Homo sapiens: one gene and its partner. The protein of the gene in region 1 purifies or fractionates together with the protein of each later gene. This does not show direct contact. Each region holds a gene or a part of one and is shown in the gene's direction. Other genes may lie near its edges.

The links.
Region 2: the proteins of LRIG3 (region 1) and LRRC32 purify together in Homo sapiens (co-immunoprecipitation; one large-scale study listed by IntAct). This does not show direct contact.

The regions. Positions count from the first base shown.
Region 1 is NC_000012.12:58,871,635-58,875,800, reverse strand, and holds the end of LRIG3 (leucine-rich repeats and immunoglobulin-like domains protein 3 isoform 2 precursor), read left to right. Parts: intron 1-1,227; coding exon 1,228-1,371; intron 1,372-1,470; coding exon 1,471-1,746; intron 1,747-2,984; coding exon 2,985-3,229; 3' UTR 3,230-3,646; downstream 3,647-4,166. UniProt on the Homo sapiens protein: May play a role in craniofacial and inner ear morphogenesis during embryonic development. May act within the otic vesicle epithelium to control formation of the lateral semicircular canal in the inner ear, possibly by restricting the expression of NTN1.
Region 2 is NC_000011.10:76,660,743-76,664,558, reverse strand, and holds part of LRRC32 (transforming growth factor beta activator LRRC32 isoform a precursor), read left to right. Parts: intron 1-692; exon of another isoform or gene 693-1,930; intron 1,931-3,050; coding exon 3,051-3,816.

The DNA.
Region 1 (4,166 bases):
CCCAAAGTGCTGGGATTACAGGCGTGAGCCACCGCACCCAGCCTCTTTGAGAAGTCTAATTCTGACCCTTGCTTTCAATGCTGCATAGTTTTGAGAATAATAATGGAGACAGCATAATACAAGAGCACAGGTTTGGTACAAGACCTACTACTTACTGCATGTACTGTGGGGCACATACAATACTTTCTGGTGAGGTACTTGTGCAAATGAAATGAAGATGGAAAACTACATGGCGCTAGGCACATATTAAGGGCTCAGCAAGTGGAAGCCATCGATGTTATTCTAAAATATATGACCAACTTTTCCCATAAGTATTTATTATACGCTCTGTGCCAGACATTGTAGTTGGGAGAGAAGTATATGTTTTCAATTTCACAGTTTCGTCAGAGGTGGATAAACTAAAAGTGCTTGGCAAGCCAGAAATAAAGAGCGTAGAGTTACAGGATCTGAGCATAGAAGTGAGTATTCTGGTTAGACCCGTTTAGAGGCAGAGTGGAGACCCAAGCTCATTAAAGCATAATGGGGTTAACTGAAAAGACACTTAAGGAAAACCTAAAGGGACAGAACTGGGGCATAATAATGCCAGGCTGCCTAGATGCTGAGGCTGGAGATGAGGCTGCTCCCAGAGTAGCTCTGGGCCACCAGCATTACTGTGTCACGTTCTGCATATTTGCTTTTCTCTCAGCCCACCACCTCTTGCTGCCCAGTTTCTGCTTCCCAGACACATGCGTCATCGTGACATCTCTAACCCTGATGATATCATTTACTCTTCACCTGCTGTGTCCAGCAGTAAATGGCGTATATTTCTGTGTTGTTTGGTTCAGATACTCATGAGATGATATGTTTAGCTGAGCTTATCTTTGAGATGGGCATTAAGAGGTCATTGGCCAAGTGCCAATCCTGGTTCTGGTCATCTGGGACCTTTTGTAAGAAGGGGACAGTGCTGATGGTATGTGGTTTAGACCATGGCTGCTTTGGCTGCAGGATCTGCACATATCAGTTTCCCGTAGAAACCAAGTGAGCAATAAGGCCACCACACCTAGCACAATGGCTAATTAAGTCCTCTAATAAATTTTTTAAAACCCTACTGTAAATTTTTGCAATTTTTTTGTCTATATGATGTTCTAGTCAAACTTTCATCTATAAATATGGAAGATGCCAAAACTGGGGAGAATGTTGAATGGCACTTGAATAATTGGATCATTGACTAAGATTTTTGTTTCAAAGGGACCTGCCATATTGACAATAGCAGTGAAGCTGATGTGGAAGCTGCCACAGATCTGTTCCTTTGTCCGTTTTTGGGATCCACAGGCCCTATGTATTTGAAGGGAAATGTGTATGGCTCAGATCCTTTTGAAACATATCATACAGGTAGGTGGTTTTCTTGCTTGAGTACAGTTCTGTTTCTTAGAGAGACTTCTAGATGTGCTAACTGTAATCTCCTTCTGTTACTGCCCCCATATTAAAAAGGTTGCAGTCCTGACCCAAGAACAGTTTTAATGGACCACTATGAGCCCAGTTACATAAAGAAAAAGGAGTGCTACCCATGTTCTCATCCTTCAGAAGAATCCTGCGAACGGAGCTTCAGTAATATATCGTGGCCTTCACATGTGAGGAAGCTACTTAACACTAGTTACTCTCACAATGAAGGACCTGGAATGAAAAATCTGTGTCTAAACAAGTCCTCTTTAGATTTTAGTGCAAATCCAGAGCCAGCGTCGGTTGCCTCGAGTAATTCTTTCATGGGTAAGTTTATTAAGTTATCAGGTACCTCGTCTGAGGATCCATACTCCAAGTTGTGTGTGAGAGAGCAATGACAGCCTTGAATGTCAAACTGGTAAAAAATGGTTTCTTGAATGAGGCTGCCATGACATCCGACTAGTTAGTGTAAATGCCTCCAAAAGCAAAGTCAGAGGTGGGATTTTACTTGATGATGTGTTTAATCTATAACTAAGCCTCAGGAGCTTTCTGGGTAGCACTGTGTGTGGCATCTACTCCAAGACAAGGGTTTGGGGAGGACTTAGGAGCTCAGCTTGTCAGCCATGTGGAAAAAGTGGTTTTGGGCTCCCACGGCCTTTGGGGTGGAGTTGTGTGCTCTGCATGATTGTGGTTTGGTATGTCTGGTGGCTTCCAACTGAACCCGCAGTCGAAGGGTGGAAAACAACATCCTACCTAGCAACAACTGCTAGTCTGACAAGCTGGACTACCTTTGGCCAAGAAAACCAGCCTTAAGGTCCAAGTCGGTGGTGTTAGATGCTGGCTGGCACTGAGATTAGGTAGTGAATTTTTTCGTCTGATGCATGGGGATAATAGGATGGAAGAGCTGAGGTCATCTTTTCACTGAACAGAGAGATGGAAAAATCAGCCACAACTTGCCATGTTGACAATAAAATTTAAAAAAGGAGAATTTTCAAATATTTTACCCAACTTCTACGAAATGTTATGTTTTATCACAGTGTAATTATTTATATTCCTTTTTTGGAAAAAATTAAAATAATATGCTTTGTATAACTGAGGCAAGAATTTGATTCAATTGAGTAATATTTGGCTACAATTAATGAAGAAAGGGCAGGACACAGGTTTATTTTGAAAGAAAATTTCTTTATTTAGCCTCAGTTAACTTGGATGTTACCATCCAACACACCCGTCACCAAAATTGGGCTCTCAGCTAGGATGTGGGGAAACTTATATTGGGGAACTTTATTGCATGACCATTAACATTACTACAGGTCATGAGAAATGATAAAGAATAGATGCATTTGTTCAGTGGATGTAAATATGAGGGAAGGCAAATGTCTTTTGCTCCATTCTAGAAGTGATCTGGCTGTAAGACAGATGTACATGTATGTGAGTGCCATAATGTGGACTTGTAGAAAACACTTACTCATATTCATGGGGTAAGATGTTCCTTCATTTGCAATGGGTTTTATTGATTCACATGCTAGCAAAGGGACCCATGTGCTCAAGGTGTTTCTTTCTTTCAGGTACCTTTGGAAAAGCTCTCAGGAGACCTCACCTAGATGCCTATTCAAGCTTTGGACAGCCATCAGATTGTCAGCCAAGAGCCTTTTATTTGAAAGCTCATTCTTCCCCAGACTTGGACTCTGGGTCAGAGGAAGATGGGAAAGAAAGGACAGATTTTCAGGAAGAAAATCACATTTGTACCTTTAAACAGACTTTAGAAAACTACAGGACTCCAAATTTTCAGTCTTATGACTTGGACACATAGACTGAATGAGACCAAAGGAAAAGCTTAACATACTACCTCAAGTGAACTTTTATTTAAAAGAGAGAGAATCTTATGTTTTTTAAATGGAGTTATGAATTTTAAAAGGATAAAAATGCTTTATTTATACAGATGAACCAAAATTACAAAAAGTTATGAAAATTTTTATACTGGGAATGATGCTCATATAAGAATACCTTTTTAAACTATTTTTTAACTTTGTTTTATGCAAAAAAGTATCTTACGTAAATTAATGATATAAATCATGATTATTTTATGTATTTTTATAATGCCAGATTTCTTTTTATGGAAAATGAGTTACTAAAGCATTTTAAATAATACCTGCCTTGTACCATTTTTTAAATAGAAGTTACTTCATTATATTTTGCACATTATATTTAATAAAATGTGTCAATTTGATGCCAAGCCCCATTTATACAATAACAATTTTTATTATTTTTAGCACAATTTAGGCTTAATTAGTTCACATTATCATGTCTCAAACGGATGGGAATTATATTTAGCCCATTAAAGTATGAACAAAAATGACCGTTTTTTCTACCTCCCAGGATTGTTGTAATACAGATTGAAATCAGATTGTGCATATGAAAGCACAATTGTAAACGAGAAGGAGCTACAGAGATTTAAGGTACATTATTTCTAAATCTACGAACAAAAAAAGATTTGTTGTTATAATCTGGTGTAATATAGTACAACTACCATAAATCACTGCTCAATTCATGTTTCTTTAATTATAATAATGGTTTACGTGGTCTAATGCCTTATGCTTATCCAAGTAGTTTCACTTTTGCCGTCCCTTTTCTTACAGCAAGCGAGTGGTTTATTGCATATGTCTATAGCTAAAATGGCTCTAGCAGAAGTGGACTTTCATGCACTGTTCCAGGTTGTAATGAGATGCTGCTAGAATTGTTTTCTGTTT
Region 2 (3,816 bases), on another chromosome or scaffold:
ACTCTGCTTTCCTCCCATGATCAGGTGGTGAAATGGAGTTGGATGGCAAGTCTTTGCTTCTGAAAAGGAAGCTGGGCAGTGGGTGTCCTGATAGCCCAGGACAGTGGGTGGGAGCTCTAAACTCTGGTCAAGGGCCAATTCCTCCAATTCCCTCCGACGGTAAGTCAGGCAATGCTGGGAGCTCAGAGCTGAAGGAGGCATGAAGACCCTGGAAGTGGAGCTCTGAGCACCGCCCTGGACTTCAAGCTTCTTCCTGGACTGGACTGGAGATCTGGGCATCCCAGTGCAGCCCTGCCCACCATCAGGCCCCCAGGCTTCTAGAGCAGGGGTCTTGGGCCCCTGAATGGAAAGCCAGTCTTGGGCTGTGGGCTTGGCAAACTTTGTGTCCTGGATCAAGTCTCAGGGGCTGGTGCCCCAGGGAGCCTTTGCCTATCCAGAGGCAGTATGCCTCTGCACTTGCCCGGGGGTAACACGCGGGGCACAGCACGGTGCCCCCCACACTGTAACAGTCAGTAAGTGGGTCCATGATGCTCTTTGCTGTGCTGACCAGCTGAGGGCCCAGTGGTCAGAACTTGGCTGGCACCAATAGGAAAAGGAATTTGCAAATGGGAGTTTTGAGCCCCTGACTGTCTGATCTTGGGCAGCCCACTCCCCTTAGCCTCAGTTTCGTTAGGGGTACAATAGGAACAGGGTGAACAATGCCTGGGAAGATTTAATGGGGTAGGGGGTCTCTGCACTCAGCACGCAGCCTGACACAGCTGGGGCTCCATCACAGGTCATTTTGTTGTTTCTGCTTTAAGTAAGGAATGCCCCAGGGGGTAAGGGCTGTGAGGAGGAGGCTATGTTTAGTGGCCCCTGCAGACAGAGAGGTTGTGAGGGAGGAAGGGCAAGGATGGGCAAGGCAGCTGGGCAGGTTTCAGGTTCACACAGGTGCCCAACTGACGGGGCATCCCTGGGCCTCCTGAGGCCCCTGTGAAGCTGCCTCCCTTGGAGGCTACATGGAGTCACTGTGCTGCATGGAGTAAGAAGAGCCACACGGAGGCCTGAGGCTGGGCAGGTCTCTTCCTCCCCCTACTCACCTTGGGGCTCTCAGGAGGAAGCGCAGAGCTGGACCAGGGGAGGAACACACCGGCTTGTGTTCCCTCCCTACCAGCTCAGCCACTGGCTCACTGTGAATTCACGCAAGTCACTGCCATCTTCAGGCCTCAGTGTTCACATCTGGGAAGTGGGTCAGCTGAACTCTTCTTGCTCTACCCGTCTTTGACTATATTTTGAAAATATCAATTATGCATTTTCTTTCCTCCTAGAGAAGTGATTGATTCAGTGCCTCAGACCTTTACTAAACTGATGATGTCTGGGACTCATTCATTAGGAAAAATTGACTTGCTAGTCAGGTCCAAGGCATGCACATCCACCAAACCAGTCCCTGTTTGCTCTGAGCTCGCTGTCTAGCAGGTCCTCACACACACAGCCACAATTCAGCGGGGCAAAGCTCTGAGAGGAAGCACAGTCAGGGAGGGCTCCCTGGTGGAGGAGGCCCTGAAGCTCAGTGTGAAGAGTTCATGTGTGGATCTGGTTGGGGATGGCATAACCAGCTCAGGGAGCAGGCCCCAGCAGTGGGTGTGGGAGCGCATGATGGGCAGTGGTCAGCTGTGGTCACTGCATGTGGGCTGGGGTGGGAGGTGGGGGACAGGTTGGCAGGGGCTACAAACAGCCTCGAAGGCCCTGCTGGGGATCCTGGACTTCACCGTGGAGAAGTTTAAGCCAAGCTGCCTCATTGTCAGAGTAGAGCTTTTGAGCAGTTGTCAGGCATTTAGCAGTGAGTGGGTCAGAACGGGTTGGCGGAGACAGAAGCTGGGGGCGGTGAGCCTGAGCCCGGTGATTGTGGAAGTCAGACCTTTTTCTGGGAAAGGCTGGGGTTCCTGGAGGCCTGGAAGAGAAGAGGGAGACCTGCATTTGCACAGGAAGAATTTTGGTCCCAGAAGGCACATCTGTGGAAGAACAAGAGTTCGGCCTTTTGTTGTTAAAAAACCTGGGTTCAAATCCCAGCTCTGCTCCTCACCAGCTGGGCAATCCTGGCACCTCCCTTCCCCTCCCTGAGCCTAGATTTCTGTAAATAGGGGTGATCGTATCAGATGGGCAGGCTGTGGTAAAGACCAATGGGACCATGGGCCTGAAAGTATTAACCAAGATGTCAAATGCTGAGTGGCTGCTGGGGAAGAACGTAAGAAAACAGAGTGGTTATGTGACTTCCTGGAGGTCGCACAGCACAAACACAGTCTCATCACCAAAGACTGTGGATTTGGCTCTGGCCATCTTTTCCCTGGCCCTTCCCACCTCCAGGGGCCCGGTCCCCTGACCCAGCCTGGGAAGAAAGCCACCTCCTAGGAGGTAACAGCAACAGAGAGGAAGCCACATCTCGGAAGCATCCACAAGGAAGGCAGGCCCCAGGACCCAGGCTCTGCCCATGACACGAGAGCCTGAATGAGGTCTGAGGCAGGGAGGCCAAGATAAAAACTGATGACAGAGCACAAATTACAGTTTTCCCTTTTGGAAACATTTCTCCCAAAGTGGAGAAATTCCCATCTACCACCAGAAATTTAACTATCTGTGCCCATAGAAGGGACCTAGGACATAGAATCAGGAGCCCTGGGTCCCAGCTCTGCCCTGCTGCTCACTGGCTTGGGGTCACTCTGTGGGATATATGGCTGTTTCCTGTAAGAGGGGTAATAATAAGTACAGGGTTTCTCTTTGTTAGTTTATTTGTCCTTCTATCTGTCTATCATCTCTCCATCTGTCCACCCATGGAACCTTCATCGAGTTCCTTCCTTAATGCCCATTACTGCGCTGGGTGCCCGAGATGGGGCAGGGAGCCGGATGGGTCATCCAGGCATGGGGTGATCAGGCTGCGGTGGGGGAAAGTTGAGCATTCTGGGAGTCCATGGGAGAAGGGTTCCCCAGCCAGGCAGGGTTCCTGGATAAACATGTCTGGTTTCATCCCCTACCGTGCCCACTTATGCCAGCTGTCTCCCCACCCTACCCCTCCCCAGGTGGACAAGAAGGTCTCGTGCCAGGTTCTGGGCCTGCTCCAGGTCCCCTCGGTGCTCCCGCCAGACACTGAGACCCTTGATCTATCTGGGAACCAGCTGCGGAGTATCCTGGCCTCACCCCTGGGCTTCTACACAGCACTTCGTCACCTGGACCTGAGCACCAATGAGATCAGCTTCCTCCAGCCAGGAGCCTTCCAGGCCCTGACCCACCTGGAGCACCTCAGCCTGGCTCACAACCGGCTGGCGATGGCCACTGCGCTGAGTGCTGGTGGCCTGGGCCCCCTGCCACGCGTGACCTCCCTGGACCTGTCTGGGAACAGCCTGTACAGCGGCCTGCTGGAGCGGCTGCTGGGGGAGGCACCCAGCCTGCATACCCTCTCACTGGCGGAGAACAGTCTGACTCGCCTCACCCGCCACACCTTCCGGGACATGCCTGCGCTGGAGCAGCTTGACCTGCATAGCAACGTGCTGATGGACATCGAGGATGGCGCCTTCGAGGGTCTGCCCCGCCTGACCCATCTCAACCTCTCCAGGAATTCCCTCACCTGCATCTCCGACTTCAGCCTCCAGCAGCTGCGGGTGCTAGACCTGAGCTGCAACAGCATCGAGGCCTTTCAGACGGCCTCCCAGCCCCAGGCTGAGTTCCAGCTCACCTGGCTTGACCTGCGGGAGAACAAACTGCTCCATTTCCCCGACCTGGCCGCGCTCCCGAGACTCATCTACCTGAACTTGTCCAACAACCTCATCCGGCTCCCCACAGGGCCAC